Linked DNA regions of Homo sapiens. The protein of the gene in region 4 interacts with the protein of the main gene of each other region in a biochemical or structural test. Each region holds a gene or a part of one and is shown on either strand. Other genes may lie near its edges.

What was found.
Region 1: of the proteins of MAF (region 4) and UBE2O, one has a biochemical effect on the other in vitro, tested with the Homo sapiens proteins (one study listed by BioGRID).
Region 2: the proteins of MAF (region 4) and ETS1 form a complex in vitro, tested with the Homo sapiens proteins (one study listed by BioGRID).
Region 3: the proteins of MAF (region 4) and USF2 form a complex in vitro, tested with the Homo sapiens proteins (one study listed by BioGRID).

Annotation. Positions count from the first base shown.
Region 1 is NC_000017.11:76,394,125-76,401,155, forward strand, and holds part of UBE2O ((E3-independent) E2 ubiquitin-conjugating enzyme), read right to left. Parts: intron 7,031-7,031; coding exon 6,887-7,030; intron 6,427-6,886; coding exon 6,317-6,426; intron 6,174-6,316; coding exon 6,023-6,173; intron 5,798-6,022; coding exon 5,325-5,797; intron 4,868-5,324; coding exon 4,713-4,867; intron 4,461-4,712; coding exon 4,348-4,460; intron 4,260-4,347; coding exon 4,131-4,259; intron 3,768-4,130; coding exon of another isoform or gene 3,765-3,767; coding exon 3,675-3,764; intron 2,698-3,674; coding exon 2,004-2,697; intron 1,738-2,003; coding exon 1,601-1,737; intron 1-1,600. UniProt on the Homo sapiens protein: E2/E3 hybrid ubiquitin-protein ligase that displays both E2 and E3 ligase activities and mediates monoubiquitination of target proteins. Negatively regulates TRAF6-mediated NF-kappa-B activation independently of its E2 activity.
Region 2 is NC_000011.10:128,458,551-128,465,581, forward strand, and holds the end of ETS1 (protein C-ets-1), read right to left. Parts: intron 5,078-7,031; coding exon 4,959-5,077; intron 4,027-4,958; coding exon 3,811-4,026; 3' UTR 215-3,810; downstream 1-214. UniProt on the Homo sapiens protein: Transcription factor. Directly controls the expression of cytokine and chemokine genes in a wide variety of different cellular contexts. May control the differentiation, survival and proliferation of lymphoid cells.
Region 3 is NC_000019.10:35,264,751-35,271,991, reverse strand, and holds the start of USF2 (upstream stimulatory factor 2), read right to left. Parts: upstream 3,031-7,241; 5' UTR 2,891-3,030; coding exon 2,829-2,890; intron 2,547-2,828; coding exon 2,500-2,546; intron 2,412-2,499; coding exon 2,293-2,411; intron 2,190-2,292; coding exon 1,989-2,189; intron 1,546-1,988; coding exon 1,395-1,545; intron 1,275-1,394; coding exon 1,187-1,274; intron 910-1,186; coding exon 851-909; intron 1-850. Other genes in the region: LSR (lipolysis-stimulated lipoprotein receptor isoform 2 precursor), read right to left, coding at 4,133-4,168, 4,258-4,883, 5,025-5,156, 5,254-5,313, 5,460-5,633.
Region 4 is NC_000016.10:79,593,338-79,597,768, reverse strand, and holds the end of MAF (transcription factor Maf), read left to right. Parts: exon of another isoform or gene 1-3,215; coding exon 3,216-3,309; 3' UTR 3,310-3,931; downstream 3,932-4,431.

The DNA.
Region 1 (7,031 bases), on a different chromosome or scaffold from region 4:
CCAGGGTTGTGGCTACTCCGGGCCCATCTCAACAGCATCCCGCTTGGCTGCTCTCAGGATCGCTTGGCTGCTCTCAGGATCCCTGCTCTTTCTTTTCTTACTCCCTTCCTTCCAGGACAGGGCCAGAACTGGGGCCTCAGACTCAGATTCAGAGTCTAGCATAGTGCTTGGCTCGATGCACAGGCCCAGTAAGGGACTGCGGAGTCAACAAGGTGGCAGGCAAACGGGCTTGCCTGTTCCGGAAGGATGCACTCAGCGCTGCCTCAGTAAACATGACTCAGAGACACTAGGCCCCGTCCACGAACAGAGGAGTGGGAAAATGGAATGTGGTGTGGCCACATGCTGTCATCCTATTTTGCAGGTAAAAAGGAAGAAACTAGATCATTATGAATCAACACAGGTTGGTCTTAAGCAAATTAGAGATGATGTGTACGACGACATATTCTGTGTGTAAACAAATCATACAAAATATTATGTACTTATGGTGATACATGAAAATGTAAAAATATTTTTTTAGTGTATAAATAATGTAAAAGTATAAAAAAAAGGTCATCCGTTTGGAAGGAGACCCACTAAACTTCCAACAATCCTCTGGGTGTGGGAAGAGGCCTATGATTCGGGGAGAAAGGGAAGTGAGGTCTGGTCAAAGGCAACTTTAGCTCTTCCATTTCCACTCAAAGGATCTGTAATGTTCTAATTTTTCAAAAAGAAAAGTAGGCTTGAGGAGTAATCATAATATAATTAATTTCAAAGTAATTTTTTTTTTTTTGAGATGAAGTCTCGCTCTGTTGCCCAGGCTGGAGTGCAATGGTGCGATCTTGGCTCACTACAACCTCTGCCTCCCAGGTTCAAGTGATTCTCCTGCCTCAGTCTCCCGAGTAGCTGGGATTACTGGCACCCGCCACCACATCCGGCTAATTTTTGTATTTTTAGTAGAGACAGGGTTTCACCGGGTTGGTCAGGCTGGTCTCAAACTTCTGACCTCAGGTGATCCACCTGCCTCGGCTTCCCGAAGTGCTGGGATTACAGTCGTGAGCCACCGCACCCGGCCTATTTCAAAGTAATTTTTTTTTTTGAGACAGAATCTCGCTCTGTCACCCAGGCTGGAGTGCAGTGGCGTGATCTCGGCTCACTGCAAGCTCCACCTCCCAGGTTCACGCCATTCTCCTGCCTCAGCCTCCAGAGTAGCTGGGACTACAGGCGCCCGCATGGTGGCGGGAGAGTTTTTTGTAATTTTTTTTTTTTTTTTAGTGGAGACGGGGTTTCACTGTGTTAGCCAGGATGGTCTCGATCTCCTGACCTCGTGATCCACCCACCTCGGCCTCCCAAAGTGCTGGGATTACGGGTGTGAGCCACTGCGCCCGGCCGAGAAAGTAATTTTTTAAAGGAGGGAGGAAAGAAAGAACCATCTGGCCTGGACACACGGCTGAGTCAGCCCTCACCTGACTGAGCCTGTGACCGCCCCTGTAAAAGGTGGGTGGGTGAGTGTCCTCGCAGGTGCCAGTCAGCCCCGGAGGTTTGGGGACCCAAGGTTGGTGGCCTCTTGGGCACTGGGTGCCCACACAGCACATCTGCACCTGCCCATGCCAAGCCTACTTGCCATTCTATCTTCAAAAGTCTTGACCATGATGCCCTCAGGCAGTGAGGTAGCCAGCAGCGCCATCTCCTTCCGCACTGTGCTGAAGAACTTCTTGGCTTCTGGAGGCTGGAACTCAATTTTCTTAAAAGAATGATTTGCTAGAGGGGGGAAGAGAATAGTCAGTCCCTCATGGAGAGGCCCTGGAGCTCCATCTGCCAACCTGGCTGGACAGGTGAGCACACCCACAGACTTCCCACTCGCCGCTGCTGGCCTCAGCACTGTGACCACACAGGGAAATGGTTTGCCCTGGGGCAGTAGCTGGGGTCTGGCGAGGGGACTAACCACCCTGCACCCAGATCTGGTGACACAAACAGGAGCCCCGAGAAGGCGGGGGAAGGCGAAGACCAGGCAAGGGCTGACTCACAGGGTGCAAACTCCAGTACGGAGAAGACCTCGCCCTTGGCGCTGGTGAAGGTGACGCCAGGCTTGCCGCCACACTGCTGGCACAGCACCGGGGTTTCGCTGGGCCACTCAGCCTTCACAGGTGACTGCCCCTCGGGCTTGTCCTCCTTGCGCTCTACGTCGGGCACTGCTTCCATCTTCTCCTCCTCTACAATGGCCACATTGTCCAGGGTCTTCTTGAGGTTTTCCTGTAGCTTCTTGATGTCATCCAGAAACTTCTTCTCCCGAGTTGGCTTCTCAGGCTCCACAGTCGGAGAGGTGGGCGAGCCCGTCAGCAGCTGCTCCACAGTCATGTTCTTGAGGCTCTCCAGGATCTTGATGGCCTCTTTCAACTCCCGGAAGCTCTTGGGTGGCCCGTCCTTGCCAGCCTTCTCCATCAGCCCGGCCATGGGGGCAGCCATGGCCACAGCCCCCTGGACGGCAGCTGTGGCTGCCTCTTCACTGATCACCACTCCCTTGTCCTCAGGGGCCACCGGCTGCTCCAGGGGTGGGATGGGGGGCTCCTCTATCTTGGGGTGCTCGTCCTCCACCAGCCCATTGTCCGTCTCCCAGCTGTCACTATCATCTTCCCATTCATCCGAGGATGCCCCGCTGGTGCTGCCTTCTACCGAATCGTAGTCTGACTCCTCAATCTCAGACTCTATGTTGTACAAGTGCTGGGGGCAGAAGGGAAGTGCCAGGGTAAGCAGACAGGAAGTCACCTCCCCACCACTAAGGAGGAGCTCTGGGGATCCCTGATCCGCACAGCTGATGGCGACTGGGCTCATGAGGCCTTGGCAACCTCATTCCACCCTTTCCCTGACCTCTGCTCTGGCTTTTGCAGTCCCTAGGTCTCTGGGAGAGGCCCTTCACCTGTCCCACCCTCCAGCTGGACCCAAAGCCCCAGCCAGTGGTCTGTTCCAGCCTCTCCTCCTGCTCTGTGCACTTCGTCAGCATCTGTCCAAGGCGTTAGGGGACCTTGGCAGGCCCAGTCCCACACCTGAAAAGCGCAGGGTCAGCTAATGATGCAGCCAAGGAGGCCTGTGTGGGGAGCTGGGAACATATGACAAGAGGGGACATGTAGAAGGGCCGACATATCCTGCTGCGTTCCCTGGAATGGCCGTTAAGGTGATGGGGCAAGCCATTCCCGCCCCCACTCCTGCCCCCTGTGTGGACCAGGAGAGGAGAGCTGGGCTGTGTGGCTCCAACCAGGAGGCGAGGGAAGGAGAGCCCGTGTAGCCCTTCTGCTCAGGACCCAGCAGGTGGGGCTAGAACTGGGTCGGCTCTCTCCTTTCTCTCCTTCTCTGTTAGAGCTTTCTAAAAAGGGTGGTAGGAAAGTCTCCATCTCCTTTTAGGAGGGAACTTGCATTCTTCGTAGCATAGTGAGCTGACAATCCAGGAAAATCCTGGAGGTTTGTGAAAGTCTACATGCACCCAGAGATGGACGTGAAGAGATTGCTGGGAGAAGCGAGGCTGGTGGGCCAACTGCAGGCCTGCACCAAGGGCTGTGTGGAATGCCTGCCTTTCCCCTCACGCTTTCGCTGAGATCTCACCAGGAAGACCTGAGAGCCCATCTTCTGGCTACACGCCTGTGGCCCCCGGCCCAAGTTGCCATAGTCACAAGCTCAGCAGGGGGGTCTTGCCAGAGCCTCACCTGGGGCAGGATGATGGTCTTTGAGTTGTCAGCCCACACCACCTCCACCTTGCTGCTGACGTCCACACGGGCCACCTGGCCCACCGATGGCTGCTGGGCAAAGGGGACAAAGTCAGGGGGCCCAGCTCAAGCTCCAGCTCCCCAGCCCCTCCTGTGCTCTGCAGTGACTGACATCATGCCCACCTGGCTTGTGACAAGGAACTTAGCTCCTCTGGTAAATGTAACCAGCGGCAGCTCAAGAAGCCTGACCCCAGAAGGGAGGCAGGGAAACAAGTCCTTCTGCAGCTGCTAGTGCTGAGCGGCAGCTTGACTCTGGGGCAGCTGCCCTTCTGAGGACACTGAGCCCAGAGGACTTTCAGGTCTTGTCTCCTAGAGCCACCTGGTGGCAGCATCAGGGACTGCAGCTGGTGCACAGGGCAGTGAGCAGCCATCCAGAACTTGAATTTGAAGGCGTACCTCATCCTCCTTGTGAGGAGCCCCATCCTCAGTATTGCCGATGCGGATGACGATGTCAGTTGTACGGAACCTAAAGTCAGGGTGGTCAGCAATGTCGTAAACACTCACATCTTCCTCTTCTCCAATCAGCTGTGGCACAGGACAGGTTGTCATGAGCTAGGGGTCCTACACCCAACCCCAGAGCCCACCTGAAGCAAGCAGTAGGGGCTGCACACACCTCCACGTCGTCCCCACTCGGCCTCAGCTTGAACCACTTCACCATGCAGGTACGGCCGATGTGGTCCCCAGACTGTACCACACCGTAGACAGCAGGGTCTGGACAGCTCTGGACTAGGGAACCAGAGAAAGGGAAGTGACTAGCTAAGGGATCCCGGCTAAGGAGCCCACATCTCAAGCCAGTGCAGAGTGCAGAACCCTGACCTTCCCCCGTCTTGGAAGTGGTGAGACCCCTTCATGAGGGCAGTCCCCTTCTGGACCTCATTTTAGCTCTGACCCCAGATCCACTGCCCATTCTCCACAAGCCCCAACCCGGGCCCTCATTGGCGACCACCCTGCTGGCTGCCCTTCCAGAGCTGGCACTACCTCGCTTATCTACCACGAAGTCTCCAGGGCAGAACTCGTTGTTGTCCAGGTGGTGCACAGGGAAGAGGTCGTTGGAGCGGATGTTGCATTCCACGGAGCCATCCTGCCACATCACGTCGGCTGAGGTCATCGTGGTCACCACCTCCACTGCCACCCTGCGGGTGCAGGCCAGTCAGCAGGCCATGCAAACCCCACCCCCTCCGCGGAAAGGGCAGAGAGTCTTTCTGTCCCTTCCTGTCCCTGTGGGCTTGGTAACCTGAAACTCTGAATCCCAGGTTGGCAGGATGAGTCTCTGGTGCACAGGAAGCTCACCCAGGGTTCCAAGGCCACGCATTCTCTGAGAACAGGATCCACTTGGGAGAGCTCAGGCAAATGTGGTTCCAGAAGGCCAAGCTTAAGGCCACCACCATCCCACCCTCTGCACCACTCCTCAGTCTCTGCTTTCCACCAGGGCCTACCCCAGGCACCTACGTTGTCTCGGGTGGGAGCCCCGGAGCCACTACAAGGCATGCAGAGGTGTGTGTGCGAGCGCAGGCACGCACACCGAGGGGACGCGCACTCTGCCTGGCTTCACGCTGACGCCATTGGGGAGGGGCACAACTCTGAGTTTACCTGTCCCCTGGCTTGAAGTCTCGAGTGATTTTATTCTTCTTCCTCTTGTGTTTGCGCTTTAAGTTCTTGATGGACAAGGGGATGCTCTTTTTGCGACTCGTGCCGCTGCCGCTCTGGGAGGAAGTGGTGGAGCTGGCAGAGGAGGTCACCGAACTGGTGTCGTCCGTGTCATCAGCAGCCTCATCATCTGCGTCCTGCTCTGCCGAGTGCAGCCTGTCATCTCTGCCTTCTTTTAGCAGGAATGGGGGCAGCTGCTCTCCTGCCTCGTGGGGCTCCTCTGCACCCTCGTCCTGCATCTCCACTGGACTGGCAGAGCCATCGGGCGTCTCCTCAGGGCTGGCAGACTCCGCTTCGCTCTTGGTTTTGGATTCCCCCTTCTTGTCTGGGTCTTCCATGGAATGGTCCCGGGAACACTGGGTGTCTGGGGAGCATGACATGATCCGCACAACCTGCTTCTTCAACAGGCGCTTCACCTGCAAGGGCGGAGCAGAGAGGACAGGGCTGTGAGGTGCACCTGGGCAGGCCTGGCCCTAGGCATCTCAGGCTGGGGGGATGACAGCTGTATACACCTGAGTAGCCGGCAAGGGTCATCAGGGCTGCCCCCCAAGGCCTAAAGCACAGACTGTCCTTCTTGGCCATGGAAATGGCTCAAGGCCAGTTCCTCAAATGCCCACCAATCCCCAACCCCAAGGACATACCTTCTTGGCCATAGAGCCCTCCCCCTGGGCGCAGTTTTTTTCTGGACATTCCCAGGCAATCTTGGCTGGCTCTACCTTGGCTGGGAAGACATACAGACAGCGCTCCCCAAGCTGCCGCTGAGCATGGTCAAAGCATCCGAGACGCTTCACCCTGGTTGGGGAAGAAGTGGGGGTGAGCTGGGCTGGACTCCTGGGAGGCCAGCAGTGTTCTTAAGCCTCCCCAGGCATGTGACCAGGGCCCAGAGCCCTGTCCCACGCGTGCCCCTGGGTTGCTGGCAGTAAGGGCATGCTTACCTGCCTAGGTTTTCCTGGGTGATGACAGAGGGTGGGGGGCTGACGCTGTCCGTGCCCCCTGGACAGAAACTCTTGGTAATCCATGTAACTTTCAACTCTACAACCTGCACCTGGGGATGGCAGGTGGGACACGCCAGTCAGGGCAGGCTCTGACAGCACTCTCTTTAGCCAGCTGCCCAAAGCCCACTTGACCTCCAGAGCAGGAAACTGATCTTCCTAGTGCAGCACCAAGTACAGACACATCAGAGCAGGCCCCAACTGTAACCACGGCCCCCACCCAATGCCCAGGACCAGTGTCACTGCTCATACCAGCCAGGGGCCACTGGAACTGCCACTTGCCACCCTCCCACCTTGCTCAGCCTGTACAGGCTGGGCTGGGGCACATCTGTCTTTTGGTCACTATGACCAGAGCCTGGGTTCCCTTTATCCCCAAAGCCCTTTGAGATCAACAGGGTCCAGATGCTGAGGAGCGGGGCTCAACCCTCAAGAGCAGGAAGGAAAGGGGCAGCAGCTCAGCTCCAGGGTGTGGAGGTCAAGGACTCCATCTCCTACCCTTGGGCCCGGACCCACCTCTTCCACCACCACTCGGAACTTGCTCTTGGTGCTGAGCACGGGCTTGACACCTGACAGCCACTGGACGCTGGAGAAGATCTTGGCAGGGCCAATGAGCACCTGGCCTGGGTAGAAGCCATAGGAATCATCGAAGAAGAGACCC
Region 2 (7,031 bases), on a different chromosome or scaffold from region 4:
TGACACAATATATTCAAAGATTGGGATGTTCGATGACTTCCCTATATTCCTGTTATATTTCTCACCTTATTAGGAAATCTTTATCTCCAATGGTCCTGAGCTAGTGAGATCAGAAAGACTAAACTGCATCCCTCTGTGCTTGCCTCTGGTTGGTTGATTTGTCCTGCTTTAATACATGATCCAGACAAGAAAGAATCAAGCCAAAGCCACAGCATTATGAATGAAATTCTTTGTTTTTAATTTCACACAGTTTAAAATACAATATGAAATCAGGCTACAGTATATAAAAAACTCTCCAGCAAAATGATGTGCCAGCATCAGCTACTAAAATAAACAAACAAAAAACTCCGCCATAAGAATTTTTTTGCATTTTTTTTTAAAAAAACATCGACACTTACATCGCTACATCTCTAAGCTACCTCAGTTCTGATTTTTAAAAAGCACCTGCTTTTCCTTTTTTTCATCTTGCTTCTAAATTTTCAGCTTTTAAAAAATATAAATTATATGAAAATACAAGTTGGAAAATAGTCAAACACAATATAACATCTTTTTCATCCCTATACTTCTCAGCTTAAAAAAAAAGTATTCTTAAAAAAAAAAGTTCAATAACTGAGGCAGTATTCCTGATAATTTTATTTTAATATATATATTTTATATATGTATATGTATACATATATTTATGGTTCCTTGAAACTTCTTTGGAATGTAGGTAAGAGTTCAACAAATTTATATAGACCCCAACAGAGTAAGCGGCATGCACAGCATGACTAGAAGAGAGATGGTGTATTTCTCACCATGAAGGTTAGGCAGGTTAATGCTGTAAAACCCAGAGTGTTCATCTCCAAAGTGAGGAAAAGCACATCTGATCTTTGAATGCTACCTCCAATCCCCACAGCCACAAAAATCAGGGCTCTATGTAGGGGAAGTCCCTCTCCAGAATGGAGAAGGGAACAAAAGTGACTCTGAACCCTAAAGCCAAAACCAACAAAGGTTAAGGCATCTCTGGGAAAATAAGGGTTTCACCCAGCTAGACCAGATTTGCCCATCCTTCCTCTGAAGTTAACGTGTGTTTTTAAAAAGCATAAACGCAACATTTCCAGTGTATAAACCACCCACCACTCTTCCTGGGATGGTCTCTGGCCTTTGGACAAAGGAGAAAAAACATCTGGCCAGATCGACAAAGCTGTCTTAACTAATACACTATCTACAAATCTTGAAAATGGTGGACTTAGAGAGAAAGGGAATTTTAGCAAACAAGCGGGCGGAGGAGCACTAGGAGGCACTTTCTTATATCTTATCTGCTATAGGAACTGCAGGAGTTATACTCACAGAAGGAGAGTTTCCGGCATAAATTTAATAGGAACGGTGGATGATTTGAGAAAGTGATTTTATGCCTGGTTGCAAACAGCAAGCAATAATTGATACCCGGCCCTGGTTCTACTCTTACCCATTATTGAAATGTGGAAAGACTTACCTAGAAATCTAAGGTATTATTTCAGCTGCAGTTTTGCATGTCTGCAAACACACACACACACACACACACACACACACACACACACACACACAACATTCACACACATGCACACATTCACACACACACCTTTTGCCAGTGCCCAACAAAAATCACATAATCTAAGAGAAAACAATGTAGTCCAAACAGTTCCACCCAACACTCCCTGAGCAGCTCCTAAAATATTTTGAGAGCTTCATTAAGGCACCTGCATCCAAAAGATCAAAATAATACAGCTGGGATAATTCTGCCTTTGCTTTCCATATGGATGCTCCAATTCATCAGTATGGGGACACTCATGAATCACAGAGCTATGTTCCTGATAATTCTGGGTCTGCAAGAGGATCTGGGAGTAAATAACAATCAATTTTCTTAAAGATATGCTAGAAAGTAGTTAGTACTTCCAATTTCTCATCCAAATCCCAAAAAGGGCCAGCCCTGAGAAGCTTACCTGAAATATTTCTTTCCTTCTCTCATGGAAGTCCATAAAAGCCACCCCTCCTCCTTATCCTTTCAACTGGGCAACTATAGAGTGAGGGAGATTCTAATTGTATTAGGCACTTTTCCTCACTAGTTAGATGTTGACTTTTCCTCTAAAACTCCATTTTCAGATTCCCCCTCACAACCAGCAGAAAGATGACTACCTTGCTTGACTATGTTTGTATTTAAACCTTGGGGGAACTAAAAATCTATTCAAATCTCATGGACAACCTTATTTTCCTCACTGAACCTCCTTCCTTAGTTTCCTTTGCCTTCAAGTCATTCCTCTCTTCTGGAATTAACCTTCACTTACCCTGTGCCAAGACATCAGACCCAAGCAAGAGGCCCTGGCATCACCTGTGCCATTCATTTTGCATACACAGTCTCACCTGACATCCTACCGGACTAATTTAAATTCTTCAAAGGAAAGCCTTGCACTTCTCTTCCAAAGACAGCCAAGTCACATTTTATTGAAATGCTCTCTTAATTTCCATCACTTCTAAAACTCAGCAAGTCTAAACTCTTCAACTTAGGTCGTGTCTCAAGTTACTTTTTCACTCACCAATCAGAAAGCCGTACACTTCTCTCTACTGAATAACAGAGTTGGCGGTGAGGGGGTGCAAAAAATGGAGGACTCTTGGAAAATAAGACATAAAAGAAAAATTACAGAGTGTTAGTTTGGAACGACATGCATTCAGGACTTATTTCTTAGGACCTGAGGGGTAATGCCCATGCATACAGCTTTTATTCCAAGTCATCTATGCTACAGATATAGGACTAAGAAAGAACCAAGTCAATCTTCCTCCTTCGATCTCCCTTCCAGGACTTCAACAGTGCTCCTACGTTTACTGTCGTCCAAAACCAGGGATGCAAAATACATTCAGTTCAAAGACTTAATGCTTCTTAGCTCAACATTAAGTCCAAACCCCGAGAATCCACTGATAACAAGTAAGTAAAGGGATGTGCTAATTTTTTTTAATTGTAGATGACATTCACACACATAATTCCCCTGTACCCAAATCAGCATTAATTGTCCTTCTTATATAAGTCCCATGAATTTGGGATCCCTGATCTCAGTGAGAGCGTTTTGCTTTTCCAATGGGGTCTATATAAACAGTTTTCTTTCATTGTGACAGAATCCTCAGCCGGCAAATAAAAACAAACTTACATGATATTGCAATACTGAGACCACCTTAGAGCTTAAGACGATTTTTAAGAAAAAAAATACTGGCACAAAATTTAATAAAATAAATTTTAACACAACAACGGTTTTGGCCCCTCCCCACTGAAGTCCATCTTTGCTTCAAAACTAGAGTGATAGGTAAATAGTTCTCAGATTTTCAGTGCATCCCCCCCCAAAACATGTTTCATCCCACCCACCTCTTTTTTGCCCTCCCAGACCTAAAAACAGAAGCAAATTAATTGCCTTACATCAGTTTCATGAGTTCTGATGTGACAATGTCACTTGCTAATGGGTCCACAACTCAAGACACTTTTTCATGGATGATTTTTAAAAATGATTGGACACATTAGTCTCTTTCTCTGTTAAGCCAGAGCCTTCAAGCTTCTGAGAAGGCCCTTCTCCCTCTCCTGAAAATTTGCTCAAGAATTTCTGGTCCCACCCACCCCACAAGTCCTGGCTTTCCTTTCCCAACTGCGCACAATTGATTACAGCTGCAACTGACTTAGCTCCCACCCCTGAAGGTAAAAAATGAGTTCTGGAAAATAAAAAATAGAATAACAATTCAAAATTCAGAGTCCAACCAACACGGCTGTCCTTGGAAGGTCTCAGCAGGGTTTCCCCAGCCCCTTCAGTGCCATCACTCGTCGGCATCTGGCTTGACGTCCAGCATGGCGTGCAGCTCCTCAGGGGTGTACCCCAGCAGGCTCTGCAGGTCACACACAAAGCGGTACACGTAGCGTTTCCCCGCTGTCTTGTGGATGATGTTTTTGTCGTAATAGTAGCGTAGGCCACGGCTCAGTTTCTCATAATTCATCTTAGGTTTGTTTTTCCTCTTTCCCCATCTCCTGGCCACCTGAAATTTAAAAAGAAAAATAAAGGAGGAGTAGGCAAAAATCTACAAGACAGGCCAAATATATATGTTTCTATGCCTATGCTATACCCATTCATGGTGACCCATGATGCTCAAGTAAGATGATTTGAGATTCATGTAGATATAGAAAATATTTTTCGGGCCTATCTCCTGAATTCCATTTTTCATGGGTTGGGCAAGGATGGGAGTCACAATGATTCTTTAAGTTGATGAAAACACAGTGACCCTGAACTAGGATTAAATATGTGACTTTAAAAAACAAACAAAAAGCCACACTATACATTCTCCTCTTTCCGCATATTATTAGTAAAATCTCCTTGCTTTGCAAGCATGAAATCTAACAGGGAAGTGTGAAGCGGAGGAGCTGAGCTGCAATCATACCTGCCTTTCATCAACAGGAAGTGTTTTTTTTCCATACCAGGGCACAAATATTTTCTCATGTCTGCCAGAACAAAGATGTTGTCTCTCCTGTTCATTGTTTTTTATCCTCAGAATTGGGCATGGCACGGAACCACTACTCCATAAACATGTGTGTAATGAAATAAGAAACTAATGAGCCAATCTCCCAAGGCCTCTTGAACTGTCTGGCCCCTTTCACACTCACAGAGCCACCGGGCTAGGAAGAGGCTAAGTCACAGGAGGCAGCTCTATGGGTGATAACTGACCTACTGCCAGGCACGTTAATGCCTTCTATCAGCTAATCCTGTAAGACAAATGGGGTAACATAGATCTTTTCTCTATTTTCCAAATAATGAACCTGGAGCTCAGACAGGCTACCTAGCTTGCTCCGGGTGGCAAGTGGCAGAGCTGGGAATCCCAATCCTGGAACACGTCATTCAGGCCCACGCCACCCCTTCCAGGAGTTTTCTCTCATCCTTCCTCAACACAGTACTCGCAAGCCCCTCCTTCCTTACCTCATCTGGGTCAGAAAGTTTGAATTCCCAGCCATCTCCTGTCCAGCTGATAAAAGACTGACAGGATTTATCAGTGAGTAATTCCAGAAGAAACTGCCATAGCTGGATTGGTCCACTGCCTAGAAACACAAGCCATTGTGAATCATTACACCAGATATTCAGCACTCTACGCAGCTAATCCCCACACACGGCACTCCCACATCCCTCTTCTCTCAGCCCATCCAGCCAGGAGAAAATGAAGGCAACAGACAGTGCACATGTCGGAGGAAGTGTTATGAGCTCGAACAGATAGAAAAGACAAAGGCCTCCCTATAAAACAAAAGCATGGAAGAAAATGTGTCAAGTGCTTTATTTTGATTAACTTAAGGATCGGTTCATTTTTATTGCTAAACAAATTCTAGAAAGAGAACACTGTGCCTATCCTCTGGGATATTCTAAGGCAGCATAATCTTTTACACCTGCAAAAACTAAGTCATTATTTTTGCCTTCAGAAGTAAGAAACATATTAACGAAGGAATGAATGTCTTTGCCAGTTCCAAACACAAGTTATGGCTCATAAGCACTGCTCTGTAGTAGGGAGCCTGTGGCCCCTGATTTGTGAGTAAGAAGGATCACTATCCTCCGGCCCTCTTACAAGGAAATAGATGTTAAATATCTGTTCAGTCATAATATTTCTCTCCACTGCCACCACCCTGCCCTTCCAGTCCACTTACAGGAAAGCACCCAAAGGAAAAAAAAAAAAAAGCATCATTACTATTTGAGGAATTAACGTGCCACCCAGAAAATCCTCAGGGGTCAGATGAGGACTGTCAGAAATTCTGCATAGGTTCAGTATATTCTAAATTAGACACACACACACACACACACACACACACACACACACACACACTTCTCTGTCTTAGCCATCAACACTCTGACAGTCAATTTATTCTATGCTAAAAGGTTTATATCACACCGATTTCCTTTGAGGATACTTTTCTCATCTGAAATGACAATGCCACCAGTGATTCTTAATTTATAGGTGTCGGTGGAGAGACAAATAGGGGTTCAAAAGTCCATGCTTCTTGTTACACTGCCCCTTATAACATAAACAAACTGGGCAGAGCGGGACTGGGAAAGACCCAGTCCATGTCTCTGGATACAGCCCAGGAAGCACCAGCTCCTACAGGAAAGCTTTGCTCACTAAGGCTCTAATTTTTCACCGGAGTTGCAAATTTGTCTGATCCAAAGTAAACTGAGATTTAACAGGAAACAAACTTTAAGTTCCCTCTCAATCTAAAAAAGAAATTGCCTTCATAATCCATAAGGGTAATGTCTTGTTGTATCTCATATTTCTACAAGACATTTTCACATGCATCGTTGTGCTTGCTCCTAAAATCCACACCCAACCCTCTGCTGTAAGGAGAGGCACAAGTGGTCTTACGGCTTCCTTTCTAATGGTGCAGAAAAAGTGCTCAGCAAAGTACTGTGACTTTGCTCTGAGCCACGGTTAGCGAAATGGTGGTTCTGGGTCTAGTACCCAGGCCTTTAGACTCAAAGGACCAGGGCAACCTCCAATGAAGTAAAGAAACAGCTACTGACACGAGCTATCATCCCACAGCCAAAGGAAGTCCTCCTCCAGTAACAACTTCCTAATGGTGGTTTCCAAGGCTCCTCTCAGCACTTGCCACGCTAAATATGAAAACATGAAATAGCTCTACCTCCTCTTTCTGAGAATGGACCATTAGCTCTTTAAAACTATCTTGCAAGAAATACCTTACATGTATTCCACAATAAAATGGCTCAGTGAATGCCTATAAAATAAAGTAACATTCGAACAACAGCCCAGAGGGCCGCACTGGTAAAGCCGTAGCTTCCTCTGTTTCTACTTTCATTCAATAAAAACCGTTTCGTATTCAACTCAGGGACATTTGCAGGTTTCTTGGGAGTTGCCTAAAGTCATGAGCTACTTGTTTTCTGCCTGGGCTCACAAAACTAACCGTGACATTCTCAGAGGAATCCACTGAGAAGCCATCCTAACAGGCACAAAGAAGTAAAACAGCAAATCGCTCTCAAGAAATGCAGCTGCCAGAG
Region 3 (7,241 bases), on a different chromosome or scaffold from region 4:
GGAACTTCTCCCACAACCAAACCAGCACCCCACAAAGTAACCTGACCCACACTCCCCTCTCCCTAGGGAAGCGTCACCCCAGCCCACCCCCCATCAATGTCCCATGAGACCCATGAGACATAAGCCCTCAGGCCTTTGAGCCTCCCTGACGCTCCAGGCCAGACTCCAGACCTGGCACAGGGCCTGTGCCGCTCAGCCCAGAACCCACGGGCAGTAAATATTTGTTGAATGATGGTTGTTTGGGTGTAAGCACTCTCCTGGCACTTGCACAGTGCTGTGCCCACTGCAGTGGCTACTGACAGGCGGGGCGGGACAGTGCTGAAGGCCAAATGACCTGAGGTGAGACCTGGTGTTTCTGGAAAGGGCAGGATGCTCCGGCCTTAGGTAGCCAGAGGCAGAACTTCATGCAGTTTCTCCCTCAGATGTGCTCCCTGGGGGAACAGACCTACTTCTGGAGGCCAGGCAGGCATGGGAGTGCGGGATGTGAGCATGACAGCTGCCACGTGGAAAGGTCAGCCCACGTGAGCCCGGTCAGCCCCATTTTTCAAGTGGGGCAGGCAATCCGTATGGGAGTGTGAAGTCCACCATCTTAGATGTGGGCCATGAATTCAAGATCACCAGCCGGGTCAACAAATGGCCAGTTCCAATTCACACTCCCTGTCCCTCTACTTCTGACACTGTACTCTCCCCTCGTTGCTCACTTTCTACCTTTACAGCGTCCAGCAAAGCCCTCTGGAGCACTTGTGGCCTGCCCAGGAGTGGCTTCTCTCTCTGTCACTCCACACTCCAGGGCTGGCTGAGCCTGTGAGGGTGGTGGTCAGGGGGACCCGGAGCCACACCTTGTCCTCACCTTCGTTGTGCTGGGCTCTTCTCCTCTCATCTCGGGGTGTTCTGGTTCCATCAATTTTTCTACAAGAGGAGGAAAAAAAAAGGGGGCATGTATTATCGCAGAGCTGTTTGCCCAAGCATCTGCTAAGTATTAGATTTGAAAATTATCTTTGCAAGGTAAATCCATCTGCAAAAACAAAAGACATGATACTTTATGTGCACTAGAGCAGCAGAAACAGGCAAAGAAAAAAAACATTACACCATGTGCCCACTTCATGCTAACTGCCCAGCTTCTACTCCAGAAACCCCTCTTCCTTCCATTTCAACACCAGGCCCTCCAGGTGTCCCCTGCACATACGGAGAGTAAGGGTGTGTCCGGGGGGCGATCGTCCTCTGTGTTCCTGTCTGAAGCACATCCTGGGGCGTCATCATGACGTAGAACTGGCCTGCAGGGAGAGTGGGGGGTTAGTGGCAAGGCAGGGTGAAGTCAGAACTGGCTGGGGGGGCTTCCCTCCCTGCTGGGCCCGTTGCCTCCCCCACCTGCCAATCTGACTTCTACTCCTCACCTCCAGCCTGCAAGCTCTGGTCTGTGGTCTGTACGGACACAGCCGTAGTATCTCCCACACTGGACGCTGGGAAATAGGCAAATCGTGCCTCCCCGCTGACAGCCTCGGCCGCCGGACTGCCACCATTGCTGAAGGGATTTTGGATCACAGCCTGGGGAGTAGGAGGGCAGAGGCTACCCTTAGCTTTCTCTGTTCCTCCATCCCGTCCCCTCATTGCTGTGCTTGGGGTTTACTGCATTCTCTGCAATTAACAGGAGTGGGGACTCCTTCTGCGTGTAGCATTCTGTCCTGTGTTTCAAACAGCCCTGGAACATGGCGGGAGGTCAGCGATCACTTGCTGAGCAAATCCGTTTCGCACTCTAAGAAACTTTCCTCTTAAGACACATCATTCCCATTTTGCGGGAAAAAAAAATTCCAAGAGCACTGTCCCCAGGTTTCACGGTGCACAACAGGGATCTGGCCCCATGCAGCCTGAGGCCTGAAGGCAGCATCCGCTGGGCGACACCTGCCCCACCCCCGGGGCTCCCCAAGAGCAGAGCCAGTGTCCCCTCTCCACTCCCTCCCCCCCCCACCCAGGGGTGGCAGGGCACCTACCAGCGGGAAGGGCGCTGCAGGACCTGGGGGCACAGAGGCAGCGGCGGGGCCCGGGCGCTGGGCTGCCCCGTCCACACCCACCTGGGTCACAGCCTGCTGCCCCCCCGCGAAGGCAGCGGTGGACACGACGCTGACGGCGCCAGCTGTGTCGCCCTGGCCGTCCAGCTGACCATCAGTCACCTGGACTACGCGGTATGTCACCTGCAGGGGGCGGCAGAGCGGCGAGGCCGGCGCTGGGGCCAGGTCCGAGCCTTCCCGGCGCGCCCGCCCGCCCGCCCGTTCGCCCTCGCGGCCCGCCGCTCACCTGTCCTCCATTTGTCTCTGTGCGGAACTGGTACTGGATGTTGTGGTCGCCGAACGCCGCCTGCTGGACGCTGGTGATGGCCACCGCTGTCTGCTCCTCCGCTCCTGGGCCGTCCCCGCCTGGGGCCGAGGAGGGTCGGGGCACGGTCAGGGCCGCGCCGAGCGCCCCCAGCCCTCCCCGGGCGCGGCCGGCCCGGCAAGCACTCACCTTCCTGCAGCTCGACGCCCTCCTCCGCCTCGGGTCCCTTGTCGTGGCTGCCAGGGGCACAGGAGGGAGCAGGGTCAGCGCGGCCCGCGCCCGCGCCCCCGCCCCCGCGCCCAGCTGCAGGGCCCCAGTCCCACCCGGCCGCGCCTGAGGCCGGGGGCGCCGCCGAGGCCGGGGGCCGGGGGCGGGAGGCGCCAGGTCCCCCCCGCGCCGGCGGCCTCCATTTTGAGCCGGGCCCGCGGCCGCTCGGGATCATGGCGGCCCCGGCCTGCAGGCCGCGGGGCCGGGGCCGGGGCCGGGGCGCGGGGGCACGGCCGGGCCGGGGATCTTACCTGGCGGCGGCAGCAGCGGTGGCCGAGGCAGCGGGATCCAGACCCGGGTCCAGCATGTCCATGGGGGGGGCGGGGGCGGGGGGGGCGCGGGGCCCGGGGGGGAGGGGAGGGGAGGGGAGGGAGGGAGGGGAGGGGGCGGGCGGCCGGGGGGGCCCCGAGCCCGGCGCTCACGCCGCGCGGCAGGAGGGGACGGAGGAGATACGGGAGCCGCTCGCGCTGATCACGGGGACAAACAGTGGGGTCATGTGAGGAGGAGATGCCGCCGCCGCCGCCGCAGCCGCCGCCGCTCCTGCAGCCGCTGCAGCCGCCGCCGCCTCCGCCTCCGCCCGCCCGCCGGCTCCGGGCGGCCCGAGGCTCCGGGACGCCGCGCGGCCGCCCCCAGCCCACCCAGCTGCCCGCCCGCTGCACGCGGCCCTCAGGCCTCCTTCCCTGAGCAGCCGCCGCCGCCGCGACTTTTTTTTTTGAACACGGCCCGCCCTGGCTGGCCGCCGCCAGTGCCCTGGATCGCCGGCTCGCGCGGCCGCCGCCCGGCTTGGCCCAGTCCGGCGGCGGATCGCTGCTGCAGCCGCCGCCGCTTTCTATTTTTCCCCCTTTTTTTTTTCCTCCTTTACTTGAGCTGCGCGCGCGCGGCGGCGGCGGCGGCGGCGGCGCGAGCCCCGGGGCGGACGCGCGCTGGGGGGAGGCGGCCCGGGGCGCGCGCGCTGGTCTGTCTCCGGGGGCGGGCGGGCGCGCGCGAGCCCGGGGCTCCGCGGGGCGCGAGGTCGCCGCGCGCCGCCCTGGTGAAACGCGGGTCTGGATGGAACGTCGGGGTACCCGGTGCAGGGGCTGGGGTCGTCGGGGGCCAGGTGGGCTGCCCGAGTTTGGAGACAGTAAAGTAGGTCGGTGGGGGGCTGGGGGGGATGGGCTGGAAGGGGAGAGGAGCGCGCGCGCGTCCCGGACGGCCAGCCTGCGGTGCGCGAAGGCGGAGGGCCGGGGCGCATGCGCACGCCTGGGCGGGGCCGGGGCGCGCACGCAGGCGGGCGGCGGCTGCGCGGGGCACGTTCTCCGGCCGGCGGCGCGGGCGCGGGCCGGGCCAGGCTGGGTCTCTTCCTCCCGGCCCCGGACTCCGGTGCCCCCGGGACGCGGCGCTTTACAGACGCATACGGGAGCAGCCCCGGTCCCCCGCCCCGCGCGGCCGAACAAATGGTTCTCTCCAGAGCTTGTGATTATACGTTTTATTAGACTCGGGAGGGGTATGGCAGGGCTTCATCAGTGTTCCTTCAAATTAAAAAAAAAAATACAAAAGCTACGTAGAAAACGTCAGATCAGACGACTAAACTTTCCCGACTCAGGGCCAAGTTCTGCAAGGGAGAAAGAAAGAAGGGTATGAGCCGCGGGGACCGGCTGGGGGCCCAGGGACGGTCTGGACGCCAGGGAGGGCGGCCCTCACCTTCTTGAGCCTGCGCTCTCGGGACGCCTGCGAGTCGGTCTCCGAGTACGGGGGCGGCGCGGGCGGGTAGTAGGCCTCTTCCTCCTCCTCCTTGTGGGGTCTCCTCCTCTCCTCCGACCCCTTCTTCCTCACAGCCTCCTCCAGTAGCCGCCCATCATAGGGGAGGTCCCCGGACCTGGAGCCGTTGTCCCGAGGGTCCCGGGTACGGTGGTGGTGGGACCTGGGGTCGGCAGGAGGGCGCTCCCGAGACCTGAAGTCGTCGTAGTGGGGGTCCCGGGAGCGTGGGAAGTCCCTCGAGTCGTCTTGGTCATAGAGGTCGTCCCGGCTGCGGCTCCGCGGGGGCATGTAGGCCCGGCTTCTCCCACCATTACTCGTGGGAGACCTGCTCCCTGACTCGGCGGTGCTCGGCGGGGTGAGGTCGTCCAGGGCGTCCACGGAGCGGGCCCGGGGCCGCCTGGCCCGCCAGCCCCCGCCTGCCTGCTCCCTGGCGGGCTCCTGGTCCCATCCCCTGGGACTCCGGGGGGAGTGGCCACCCCACTCCTCATCCCGGATCGGGGTGAGGGCAGGGCCCCGGGAAGGCCGAGATCGCCAGTCGTCCTCGTGGAGGGAGGTGACTTCACTCATGGCTGCAGGGAAGGGGGGTGTCACTGACTGCTGGAGGAGCCCGGGGTCCAGGGTTTGCACCAAGAGTCCCTGCGGCAGGTATCAGGGAGACATGTTTCACCCCCCCACCTTAAAAGCCCTCAGACCCCAAGGCTCCTGCTTACCCCGCTCCACACGGCCACTGGGGGGGCCAGGTCGAGAAGGGTCGAAGTTGGCCAGCTCCTTCTCCATGTAGTACAGGACCCGCATGGAGTCGTCCTGCTGGCTGGCCTGAATCCTGTAGCCACTGCGGACTTCTAGGGACAGGGGGGTGGTGGTCGGTTTGGGAGGATGGATCCTGGCCCACCCCTCTCCCTTACAGGCACATCCAACTTCGGGACGATGGATTCTCACCAGAGGCCACACTGCTGTCCGTGTCCCGAAGCAGGGGTACATAGGAGCCTTGGCCACCAGCTGGGGGAGAGTGGCTGTCAGTGGCCGCGCACCAGGAGCAGAGCCCCTCCTCGGCTCCCAAGACACTCTTCCTTCCAGCCCCTGCCCCTCAGTGTCCAGATGCCCAGCACACTCCCACCAGCTGTTCCTGCTTCCCCCGGCCTCACCTGAGCTACTCCTGTCAACGTCTCCAGGGTATCCTCCAGGGTACCCGTTGTAGGCAGGGCCCATGGGAATCATAGCTGGTGGGGGTGGGGTCTTGGCGGGAGACAGGTGGGCATAGGTGCTGGGGGCATAAATGCTGGGAACACCTGAGGTGGCTGCTTTGCCGGCGGCATACACTGTGAGGACACAATCAACAGGAGAAGGGGGATGAGGCAGGAGCCAGGCTGCCCCATACCCATTGGGTTCCGGAGGGACCTGGGCCTGGACCTCCTTCCCAAGCCGTCCTCTCCGCTGTAGAGCTTCCTTGGACATCTGAGTCCCTGTTGGTCCTCATTCCATTTCTGCAGCATCCCTGAGGCTGGGGGACACCAGCTTCACAGAGACCCCACCCCACTTCCTGTGTGATTTTTCAGAGGGTGCACGCAGGCACCCACAGCCCCAGGGTGGCAGAACAATGTTTCATTTAACAGCATGGTAATTCGCCAACATTTGTCAATCAAAAGGTTTTACCTAAACTTCCAACTCCCCAGCTAACTTACTGGAAGAAGTGGCCACCCATGGTCTGTGTGTTTACAGGGCAACAAAGCTGCCCTTTATATAAAGCCCAGATGCTGGGTCCACCACTGTCCCCACAAGCCGAAATCAAGTATCCTCTTTGGCAGCCAAGCCCCTGTTCTAGAAAAAATGAGTCATCTGGGAGACGTGGGTCCTGCCCACCTGGTCACCTTCCAGATTGAGATGCAGTGGCAGGAGCCTCGGGAATTAACTTGCCTGCCCCGGCCAAGCAGCAAAGTGTCTCCTCTAGTGTTTCTAACTCATGGACTGCACCCATTTCTGCCTGCCCCACCAGGCTCTAGGCTTGACAGTTCAAGGTAAGATCCTCCTCCCTTCCTTCCTCCCTAGGGCAAGAGGCTTGCAAAATTCCTGGGCCCTAGGCAAGTGGCTTCCTCCCTGGGACCCCAACAGGAAAATGGAGGAGAGAGATGGGCCCAGAGAGGGTGCCTCACCTCTGATTTGGTTTGGAAGCAGAAGACTAAGTGCACAGCCTAGAGGAAGCCCCTTCATTAGCTCAGGCAGCCTGCAACTTTATCATCAGCAGTGGGACCTGCTGCCTCCTGAAGGGTGGGCGGAGGCTGTGGCAGCAGCAGATGTAACAGGGCCTCTGCCAGGGAGTTAATGGGGCCCTGGGTTGGGGTAACAGGGTCTCCGGATGGAGGAAATGTGGTGTGGGGACAGGGGAATGTGGCATTGGGACCAGCATTTAGTCCTGGCCCTAGCTCTGGTCTTAGTGGGTTCACTGCAAACTTGGTTGCAGCCCATCTGTGAAATGGACCTAACACTTACTCACTGAGCAAAAAGCTGTCAGCTGAACACAACAAGAGGGAGGGGATGGGATGGCCTGCATAAGCCTCCAGGGAGCAGTGGAATTTTTTCAGGGAAGTGATCCTTTGAGGAACCAGGTTGCACACCACTGACTTCAATGACTATAAAATTAGCCAGCGACTTCCTTAATGCTAACAACAACCCATGAAGTCAGGACCTAACAGAAGGAAACAGGACTCAGAGAGGGAAGGCTGCTTCTCTGGGGTCACTCTGTGTGCACCAGGGCTCTGACTGGTGCCCTGTCCCTCAGTCACTACTGAGGCTGATAGTGGCAGTGCCCAGCAGCTGACAGACGTAGAATATTTTATATAGGTTGGGCCCCATGCTCAATGGTGTGCACATGAGCTCGCCAAATCCCCAGATGCACCCAGTGTGGTGAGCTCTGCCATAAGCCCCATTTT
Region 4 (4,431 bases):
TTTTTCCTTTTTTTTTCCTTTTGGCTTGGAAATGGACGTTCGAAGACTTATAGCATGGCATTCATACTTTTGTTTTATTGCCTCATGACTTTTTTGAGTTTAGAACAAAACAGTGCAACCGTAGAGCCTTCTTCCCATGAAATTTTGCATCTGCTCCAAAACTGCTTTGAGTTACTCAGAACTTCAACCTCCCAATGCACTGAAGGCATTCCTTGTCAAAGATACCAGAATGGGTTACACATTTAACCTGGCAAACATTGAAGAACTCTTAATGTTTTCTTTTTAATAAGAATGACGCCCCACTTTGGGGACTAAAATTGTGCTATTGCCGAGAAGCAGTCTAAAATTTATTTTTTAAAAAGAGAAACTGCCCCATTATTTTTGGTTTGTTTTATTTTTATTTTATATTTTTTGGCTTTTGGTCATTGTCAAATGTGGAATGCTCTGGGTTTCTAGTATATAATTTAATTCTAGTTTTTATAATCTGTTAGCCCAGTTAAAATGTATGCTACAGATAAAGGAATGTTATAGATAAATTTGAAAGAGTTAGGTCTGTTTAGCTGTAGATTTTTTAAACGATTGATGCACTAAATTGTTTACTATTGTGATGTTAAGGGGGGTAGAGTTTGCAAGGGGACTGTTTAAAAAAAGTAGCTTATACAGCATGTGCTTGCAACTTAAATATAAGTTGGGTATGTGTAGTCTTTGCTATACCACTGACTGTATTGAAAACCAAAGTATTAAGAGGGGAAACGCCCCTGTTTATATCTGTAGGGGTATTTTACATTCAAAAATGTATGTTTTTTTTTCTTTTCAAAATTAAAGTATTTGGGACTGAATTGCACTAAGATATAACCTGCAAGCATATAATACAAAAAAAAATTGCAAAACTGTTTAGAACGCTAATAAAATTTATGCAGTTATAAAAATGGCATTACTGCACAGTTTTAAGATGATGCAGATTTTTTTACAGTTGTATTGTGGTGCAGAACTGGATTTTCTGTAACTTAAAAAAAAATCCACAGTTTTAAAGGCAATAATCAGTAAATGTTATTTTCAGGGACTGACATCCTGTCTTTAAAAAGAAATGAAAAGTAAATCTTACCACAATAAATATAAAAAAATCTTGTCAGTTACTTTTCTTTTACATATTTTGCTGTGCAAAATTGTTTTATATCTTGAGTTACTAACTAACCACGCGTGTTGTTCCTATGTGCTTTTCTTTCATTTTCAATTCTGGTTATATCAAGAAAAGAATAATCTACAATAATAAACGGCATTTTTTTTTGATTCTGTACTCAGTTTCTTAGTGTACAGTTTAACTGGGCCCAACAACCTCGTTAAAAGTGTAAAATGCATCCTTTTCTCCAGTGGAAGGATTCCTGGAGGAATAGGGAGACAGTAATTCAGGGTGAAATTATAGGCTGTTTTTTGAAGTGAGGAGGCTGGCCCCATATACTGATTAGCAATATTTAATATAGATGTAAATTATGACCTCATTTTTTTCTCCCCAAAGTTTTCAGTTTTCAAATGAGTTGAGCCATAATTGCCCTTGGTAGGAAAAACAAAACAAAACAGTGGAACTAGGCTTCCTGAGCATGGCCCTACACTTCTGATCAGGAGCAAAGCCATCCATAGACAGAGGAGCCGGACAAATATGGCGCATCAGAGGTGGCTTGCGCACATATGCATTGAACGGTAAAGAGAAACAGCGCTTGCCTTTTCACTAAAGTTGACTATTTTTCCTTCTTCTCTTACACACCGAGATTTTCTTGTTAGCAAGGCCTGACAAGATTTAACATAAACATGACAAATCATAGTTGTTTGTTTTGTTTTGCTTTTCTCTTTAACACTGAAGATCATTTGTCTTAAATAGGAAAAAGAAAATCCACTCCTTACTTCCATATTTCCAAGTACATATCTGGTTTAAACTATGTTATCAAATCATATTTCACCGTGAATATTCAGTGGAGAACTTCTCTACCTGGATGAGCTAGTAATGATTTCAGATCATGCTATCCCCAGAAATAAAAGCAAAAAATAATACCTGTGTGGAATATAGGCTGTGCTTTGATTTACTGGTATTTACCCCAAAATAGGCTGTGTATGGGGGCTGACTTAAAGATCCCTTGGAAAGACTCAAAACTACCTTCACTAGTAGGACTCCTAAGCGCTGACCTATTTTTAAATGACACAAATTCATGAAACTAATGTTACAAATTCATGCAGTTTGCACTCTTAGTCATCTTCCCCTAGCACACCAATAGAATGTTAGACAAAGCCAGCACTGTTTTGAAAATACAGCCAAACACGATGACTTTTGTTTTGTTTTCTGCCGTTCTTAAAAGAAAAAAAGATAATATTGCAACTCTGACTGAAAGACTTATTTTTAAGAAAACAGGTTGTGTTTGGTGCTGCTAAGTTCTGGCCAGTTTATCATCTGGCCTTCCTGCCTATTTTTTACAAAACACGAAGACAGTGTGTAACCTCGACATTTTGACCTTCCTTTATGTGCTAGTTTAGACAGGCTCCTGAATCCACACTTAATTTTGCTTAACAAAAGTCTTAATAGTAAACCTCCCCTCATGAGCTTGAAGTCAAGTGTTCTTGACTTCAGATATTTCTTTCCTTTTTTTTTTTTTTTCCTCATCACAACTAAGAGATACACAAACTCTGAAGAAGCAGAAATGGAGAGAATGCTTTTAACAAAAAAGCATCTGATGAAAGATTTTAGGCAAACATTCTCAAAATAAGAGTGATATTCTGGATGTAGTTATTGCAGTTATCTCATGACAAATGAGGCCTGGATTGGAAGGAAAATATAGTTGTGTAGAATTAAGCATTTTGATAGGAATCTACAAGGTAGTTGAATATAATAAGCAGGTTTGGGCCCCCAAACTTTAGAAAATCAAATGCAAAGGTGCTGGCAAAAATGAGGTTTGAGTGGCTGGCTGTAAGAGAAGGTTAACTCCTAGTAAAAGGCATTTTTAGAAATAACAATTACTGAAAACTTTGAAGTATAGTGGGAGTAGCAAACAAATACATGTTTTTTTTTTCTTACAAAGAACTCCTAAATCCTGAGTAAGTGCCATTCATTACAATAAGTCTCTAAATTTAAAAAAAAAAAAATCATATGAGGAAATCTAGCTTTCCCCTTTACGCTGCGTTTGATCTTTGTCTAAATAGTGTTAAAATTCCTTTCATTCCAATTACAGAACTGAGCCCACTCGCAAGTTGGAGCCATCAGTGGGATACGCCACATTTTGGAAGCCCCAGCATCGTGTACTTACCAGTGTGTTCACAAAATGAAATTTGTGTGAGAGCTGTACATTAAAAAAAATCATCATTATTATTATTATTTGCAGTCATGGAGAACCACCTACCCCTGACTTCTGTTTAGTCTCCTTTTTAAATAAAAATTACTGTGTTAGAGAAGAAGGCTATTAAATGTAGTAGTTAACTATGCCTCTTGTCTGGGGGTTTCATAGAGACCGGTAGGAAAGCGCACTCCTGCTTTTCGATTTATGGTGTGTGCAAGTAAACAGGTGCATTGCTTTCAACCTGCCATACTAGTTTTAAAAATTCACTGAAATTACAAAGATACATATATATGCATATATATAATGGAAAGTTTCCCGGAATGCAACAATTAGCATTTTAAAATCATATATAGGCATGCACATTCTAAATAGTACTTTTTCATGCTTCATTGTTTCTCTGGCAGATAATTTTACTAAGAAGAAAAATAGATATTCGACTCCCCTTCCCTAAACAAATCCACGGGCAGAGGCTCCAGCGGAGCCGAGCCCCCTGGTTTTCTCGTAGGCCCTAGACGGTGTTGCATTTATCAGTGATGTCAAACGTGCTCATTTGTCAGACATAGCTGTAAATGAAAACAATGTGTGGCAAAATACAAAGTTAGTTAAATACACACCCTCTGTGTGATTTTTTGCTCCCTTTTCTTTTTTGCTCCTACTCAAAAAAAAAAAAATCACCTCCTTTACATTTCCCTGGCTTCTTGCATGTTTCCCTTTTCAAAAACCATGTAATAATTTTTTACAATGTATCTGACACATTAATATATTGACATCAAATAGGCAGACATTCTACTTTTGCCTGGCAAATAAATCTGCTACGGAGACATCATTTCCTCACTGTCTCAAAGCCATAACTACCTGGGAGTCTTTCAACACAGACCCCTCCGATGGGAAATGCTGTTTATTACTGAATGCAGGATGCTCACGCTCTGATCTTTTCTCCCTTGTGCCTTTACCCCAGTCATTTTTACTTAGCAACACCAATTCTAGATACTTCTGTTCTGAAGTAGAACCACCCCCTTGCCACACTGCCAGTTTTCCTGCTAAAAGCAGTGGACAGAAGACAGATCATGGTCACCCTCACAAACATGGCACACAGCTGTCTCGGTAGCTG